2 linked regions of the Homo sapiens genome follow. The protein of the gene in region 1 purifies or fractionates together with the protein of each later gene. This does not show direct contact. Each region holds a gene or a part of one and is shown on either strand. Other genes may lie near its edges.

The links.
Region 2: the proteins of CYTH3 (region 1) and FBLN5 purify together in Homo sapiens (co-immunoprecipitation; one large-scale study listed by IntAct). This does not show direct contact.

Annotation. Positions count from the first base shown.
Region 1 is NC_000007.14:6,262,576-6,266,395, reverse strand, and holds part of CYTH3 (cytohesin-3), read left to right. Parts: intron 1-3,820. UniProt on the Homo sapiens protein: Promotes guanine-nucleotide exchange on ARF1 and ARF6. Promotes the activation of ARF factors through replacement of GDP with GTP. Plays a role in the epithelial polarization.
Region 2 is NC_000014.9:91,868,911-91,872,122, forward strand, and holds the end of FBLN5 (fibulin-5 isoform 1 precursor), read right to left. Parts: intron 1,476-3,212; coding exon 1,314-1,475; 3' UTR 501-1,313; downstream 1-500. UniProt on the Homo sapiens protein: Essential for elastic fiber formation, is involved in the assembly of continuous elastin (ELN) polymer and promotes the interaction of microfibrils and ELN. Stabilizes and organizes elastic fibers in the skin, lung and vasculature.

The sequences.
Region 1 (3,820 bases):
ACTTTCTGCGTCTTAATTTATTGACTCTTCATCATATTGCTATTTTCAGATTGGAAAATGGAGGCATAGGGAAGCTAAGTAATTGGTCTGAAATTTCACAGCTAGCAGGTGATGGAGCTGTGATTGGAACCCAAGCCTTCCATTTCAGAATCCGTATTCTCAACCACTGCCCCCTGCTTTTTAAAGAAGCATATTCTTGACTCCTGAGTGGAGAGTGGTTTGGAGGAGAAGGGAGGACTTGGGAGAAGGGAGGTGTTGCAGTGGTTCAGGTGAGAGTTACGGGGCTTGGTGGGTTAGGGTGGTAGTGGGAAATATGGAGGGAAGGATATATATAAAACACATCTGTATAAAACATACAGAAAAGTACAAAGAATAATGAAACCAGCACTCTTGTTCCCACTACTCAGAATTGACATAATAGCTGTCAATGTTCTGTTGCATTTTTTAGGTCCGTTTTTTAAAAAATAAAGCATTACTGGTAAGTCTCTCCATCTCAGTATATTGTGGTGTTCTTCCAGTTGCTCAGGCCAAAATTTTGGTGCCATCTTTCACTTCTTTTGCCTTAAGCCTTCTCATGGTTCTCCCATTGTCATCCTTGTTCACACTGCAGCCAGGGCGATTCCCTTTGACACGCAGGTCATGTCACTCCTCTCTGAAAGTTTGCTCTTTCCTCGGTTTATTGAGAATCCTATTCTCAGACCACCTTACCATGGCCATGGCCCACACGCTGTAGTTTAGGGGCTGCAAGTTCTTCTTCTTCTTTTTTTTTTTTTTTTTGAAATGGAGTCTTGCTCTGTCACCTGGGCTGGAGTGCAGTGGAGCGATCTCGGCTCACTGCAACATCCGCTTCCTGGGCTCAAGTGATTCTCCTGCCTCAGCCTCCTGAGTAGCTGGGACTACAGGCGCGTGCCACCATGCCCGGCTAATTTTTTGTAATTTTTTTTTTTTAATAGATACGGGTTTCACCATATTGGCCAGGCTGGTCTTGAACTCCTGACCTCGTGATCTGCCTGCCTTGGCCTCCCAAAGTGCTGGGATTACAGGCATGAGCCACCACGCCCAGCCAAGCTTTTTTTTCATAAAAGGGCCGGATAGTAAACCTCATAGGCTTTGTGGGCCACATATGATCTCTGTCACAAGTCTTTTTTTTTTTCATAACCTTTTCAATATGTAAAAAACATTCTGACCTTGGGGACTGCCCTTGACTACTACTCTAGTCCCCTGCTATCTCTTTGACATTGTCTGTTGCTCCTCTCCCGTTTCCTCCCTGACTCTGCTCTGTCTCATTGGTCTCCTTGCCAAGCACACTCCTGCCTCAGTGCCTGTGCACTTGCTGCCCCTGTAGTGGTTTCCTCTTAGATACCTGCATGTGGTGTATCCTTGCTTCATTCAAGTTTGTGCTCAAATGTTTCCTTATCACAGAAGTCTTCCTTGACCAACCTATCTAAAATCACATTCATTGTTACTGTCAGCTCTATTTTTCTCCCTTAGCACATGTCACGCCTTACCTATTACATATTTGTTTCTTTTCTCTTACAATGTGAGTTCTGTGAAAGTAAGAATATTTTCTGCTTTTATCCAGTTATATCTCCAAGATCTAGAACAGTGCTTGGTACATAGTAGCCTTTCAGTAAATATTTGTTAATAAATACTGAATAAAGTTGAAGTCACTTGTGTCTAGCAATCCCTGGTCCTTTTGCTCTTTGCTTTCAATGTTTCTTAGAGGCAGCCATTATGAATTCGATATGGGGCCCTCTGGTGTATGGTGTTTTTGTTAGTTTTTTGAGATGGAGTCTCACTCTGTCACCCAGGCTGGAGTGCAGTGGTGTGATCGCAGCTCACTGCAATCTCCATCTCCTGGGTGCAAGCGATTCTTCTGCCTCAGCCTTCCGAGTAGCTGGGATTACAGGCAGGCGCCACCACACCCAGCTAATTTTTGTAATTTTACTAGAGACAGTGTCTCACCTTGTTGGCTAGGCTGCTCTCGAACTCCTGACCGCAAATGATCCACCCGCTTTGGCCTCCCAAAGTGCTTGGATTGCAGGCATGAGCCACCGTGCCCAGCCTGGTATATATTTCATACTTCAACAGATGTGCGTGTGCCTCTGTAAGCAATGTACAGGTCTCCTTTTTGTTTTTTTTTCTTTTGAGACGGAGTTTTGCCCTTGTTGCCCAGGCTGGAGTGCAATGGAGCCATCTTGGCTCACTGCAACCTCCGCTTCCTGGATTCAAGCGATTCTTCTGCCTCACCCTCCTGAGTAGCTGGGATTACAGGTGCCCGCCATCATGCCCAGCTAATTTTTGCATTTTTAGTAGCGATGGGGTTTCACCATGTTGGCCAGGCTGGTCTTGAACTTCTGACCTCAGATGATCTGCCGGCCTCAGCCTCCCAAAGTGCTGGGATTACAGGTGTGAGCAACCGCACCCGGCCCTAATTGGTTTTAAAAAGATTATAAAGCCGAGATCACACTGTATGTAATCTTCTGCAGCTTGCATTAGAGATTATCCTTGTGATTATATATAGACCTTGTTTAATTTAACTGCGATCACGTTTTGTCTATCTTGTCCTGTGTTGAACTTTTTTTTTTTTTTTCCTGAAGTTAGTGTCCTCACTCTGTTTCCCAGGCTGGAGTGCAGTGGTGTGATCTTGGCTCATTGAAACCTCTACCTCCCAGGTTCAAGCGATTCTTCTGCCTTAACCACTTGAGTGGCTGGGATTACAGGCTTGCAACACCATGCCCTGGTAAATTTTTAGTATTTTTAGTAGAGACAGGTTTTTGCTACGTTGGCCAGGCTGGTCTTGAACTCCTGACCTCAAGTGATCCGCCTGCCTCGGCCTTCCAAATTCTGGGATTACAGGTGTGAGCCACCGGGCCTAGCCCTGTGTTCAACTTTTTAATGTCAATGTTACACTGGTGGTGTTACAAACGGTACTGAGGTGAGCTCCCTAGTCTTCTCTCCCCTCACAAATGTGAGTTTATCTAGAGTATATTTCTAGAATTGCAGTTGTGAGTTATAGGCATGCTTCAGTTTTAATAGATAACAGATTGCTTTCTCATTAGGGGCTTGTGAGTAGTGTGATTTCCCAGCATTCTAATCAGCACACAGTGTTTGCCTTACTTTTAAATATTTACCTATCTCATGGGTAAGAAATGATGTATTGCTTTAATTTGTGTTGCTTTATAGTGACAAAATATATATTTTAAAAGCTGTTATATTAGGTTCAGGGGTACATGTGAAGGTTTCTCGTAAGTGAGCTCTTGTTATGGGATGGAATGTATTTTGGAGAATCAGATGGACATACTGTCAGCTTGGAGAAGGTTAGAGGTATAGAAACTGTAGGAATCAAATATGACTTTAGGTTTCTGGCTTGGTAGTGGTGTTGCTTAATGAACAGGGGAAAAAACTATTGTGAGGGTTCATTTTTTTTTTTGGTCAAAAATGCCTTTACTTTGCCTCCACTTAAACACAATTTTTTTATTAGAGTCGCGCTCTGTTGCCCAGGCTGGAGAGCAGTGACGCCATCATAGCTCACTGCAGCCTTGAACTCCTGGGCTCAAGCAGTCCTCCTGCCTCAGCCTCCCGAGTAGCTAGGACTACAGGCATGTGCCACTGTGCTAAGCTTGCCTCTGTTTTTGAAGGATAGTTTCATCAGGATTATAGTTGGAGGCTTTCAAGTTAATTTATTGCAGTTTTTAATTTTTTGTAAAGATGGGAGGTCTCACTATGTTGCTCAGGCTGGTGTTGAACTACTGGCCTCAAGTGATCCAAAGTGTTGGGATTACAGGCATCAGCCATTGAGCCTGGCCTTCCTACAGTG
Region 2 (3,212 bases), on another chromosome or scaffold:
CCACCTCTCTTTCTAGGGTTTATAACAATACATTCTCAACTCTGGCTACATAGTCAAGTTTTCAAAAATCCTGATGGCCGGGCCCTACCTAAGCCCAATGACATCAGAGTGTCTGGGGGCATGTCCCGGGGAATCAATCTTTCCTCCAAAGTTCTACTGGTTATCCGTCTATGCAGCCAGGGTTGAAGGCCACTGGTTTAAAGTAACTTGAATACATTCCTGTTCTGCAGGAGCACCGGAAATAATCTACGTAAGAGAAGGATTGTTGGTTGTTTTCTAATCAGATGAAACAGGACTCAGGGATGATGCCTCCCCCTAACTTCCCCACGACCCCTATTTCTCTGCCCCACCGCCCCCCTCCCATCAATTTGCCAGAGTCACAGATAATGCCCTAGCTCTCTGGAGAGCTTTCTAAGCCAGCGCACAATAAACAGGTTTAAACAGAACTAGAACCCCAAAGGCTGACTCGTCTATGATGTCAAAATGAACCAAACACAAGCTCTCTTCAAATATTTAATCAGTTTGGAGACCTCTGCATTCCAATCCAATTGGGTAAAAATTCTAAAGAAAGCAAGATTAAGGGGTCCTCAAAGAAAACACTGGGCTAAAATGGAGAGGAGACTGGGTTTGGGAAGACAGAACATAGCATGTGTCTGAAGGCCTTTCGAAGGAATTCTACGACATATTTTTTAAAAATACTCAAAATGAACAAGACAGAATTAAACCGTTATACAAATTTAAGGACAACTGAAACTTCTTTTATGGTTGAAAATACCAGGCATGGTTTTGAAACACATTCTCTAAAAACCCTTCGATCCTGCTGTGGTTTGTTTACATAGCCTTCTCTGTGTACGCAAAAAGCAAACTAGCTACTCCCAGGGTTCCCCGCCAGCTCCCGGGTCTTTGCAAAGCAGTAACACAGTGAGAGAAGGAGTGGAAGAGGTGAAGAAGTGACAGCAAGCTGTTCACAGTCTTTGAACATAGACTCAGACCCCCGCAAACCTAATCTATTTTCTTTGAAAATAGTGGAAATAAACTGAAGGCCTTGAAAATTCACCAACAATCTTCTATCAGGGGAGCAATGATAATACTTTTTGATAACTGTGTCATAGGAACTGGGGGTGGCAAGTCCTGCAGGGTGACAGGTCTGCAATAGTACAGGTGAGAGTCAGGAAGTCGGGGCTGACTCTTCGGGGAAACGTTCAGCAGGAAATGCCTAACGTCTGTGTCGCTCTCATTCTCTCTGTTATTTCCTCTCTTCTCCTGTCCCTTGGTGCCAATGAGAGGCAGCGTCGGAGGCTCCAGCCCGAGGCTCAGAATGGGTACTGCGACACATATATCCGCAGTCGGATCACGGAGCTGCCTCTGAAGTTGATGACAGTGTTGACAGTGATCATTTCCAAGTCCAGCTGGATTTCCCGGGGCCCTTTGATGGGGCGTGTCATCACCAGGGTGGCACTGATGGGGCCCGTTTGCTATGGACAGAACCGGGGAACACCAGTGAGAAAAGGCCTGCATGGTGGCCCTGCAGCCCCACCTGGGCGCTCCCTTGCCTCCGTCAGTCAAACTGGCACCCCCTCGGTGCCTCAACTGTGCCATGCTCTTTCCCTGGCTTTGCCCACTCTCCACCTGGTTCTTTTCTGCAAACCCTTCAGGTCTCATCTGAAAGGTCACTTCCTAAGAGGAGCCTTCTCTGGTTCCCCAATCTAAGTCAGGTCCCCCTGCGACCTCTGACGCTGCAGCCTTTACTTTGTACAGGATGGAAAGCATTTATGACCATGTATGATTGTCCATACTGTCTACCTGATCCGTGTCTGATATCTAGGCTCCCACTAGGCTATGAGTTCTGTAAGAACAGGTACTGGGGTCAGGCTTTTCACCACTGAGTCCCCCTAGAAGCCAGCATGGTGCCTTGAACACAGAAGGTGTTCAGAAAACATATATTGAATGATGAACGAATCATTGATTGAAACTTCTGCATGGCTTAGGGCTGTCACTTCACCCCTCTGGGGCTCATCTCTCAAATGAGGGTTTGGCATTGAGTACATACACATGGACACAAAGAAGGGAAAAACAGGCACCAGGGCCTGCTTCAGGGTGGGAGGCAGGAGGAGGGAGGGGATTGAAAAACTACCTACTGGGTACTATGCTTATTACCTGGGTGATGACATCATATATACACCAAACTCCTACGACACAGTAATTTATCTATACAACCAACATGCACATGTACTCTTGAAAGTGGAATAAAAGTTTTAAAAAACGTTTTTGAGGAAAAATAAAATGAGGGTTTGGACCAGATCAGTAATTTAAAAAAAAAAAAAAAAAGGCATCAAAGGCTACTGGAACTTTTTTTGTTAAACTAACAATTCCAGGGGCCCATTCCAAGATTTTCTATGTCAGTATATTTTTAGGTGATGCCTGGGAAAGGTGGAATTTAAGAACCCCCCTCTAGGCACCCTAGAGTCATCTCCAGCTTCACCATTCTGTAACCTGATCACTGTGGTCCTAATAATTTCGCGTGAACTCTCTCCTCCACTGAGTCTTTTTCTAAAACTTTCAAGGAGGAAGGCAGAGAGGAATGACATCAACTGAGCACCCATCATGTGTGAGGCACTCTTCTAACCATGTTTATGTACATCTGCTTATTTAATCCTCATAAAATGGCCAGGCACCATGGCTCACAACTGTAATCCCAGCATTTGGGAGGCCGAGGTGGGCGGATCACTTGAGGCCAGGAGTTGGAGACCAGCCTGGCTGATATGGTGAAACCCCATCTCTACTAAAACTAGAAAAATTAGCAGGGCATGTTGGCAGGTGCCTGTAATCCCAGCTACTTGGGAGGCTGAGGCACAAGAATTGCTTGAACCTGGGGGGCAGAGGTTGCAGTGAATAGAGATCGCACCACTATACTCCACCCTGGACAACGGCGAGACTCCAGCTAAAAAAAAAAAAAAAAATTCTCATAAAACCCTGAAAGGCCTTGCCACTCAAAGTGTGGTCCCTGGACCAGCAGCATGGGCATCACCAGGGAGCTTCTTATAAATGCAGAATCTCAGGGCTAGGATCTACTGAGCCAGAATCTGTGGCTTAACACAATCCCCAGGGCTTTGTGTGCACATTAAGTATTGAGAAATATTGATCTAAAAGCACAGGACCCAGGTGGGGGGGCCCTGGCTGTCCTTGTCTAAGTGCTGTATGAAAGGTATGAC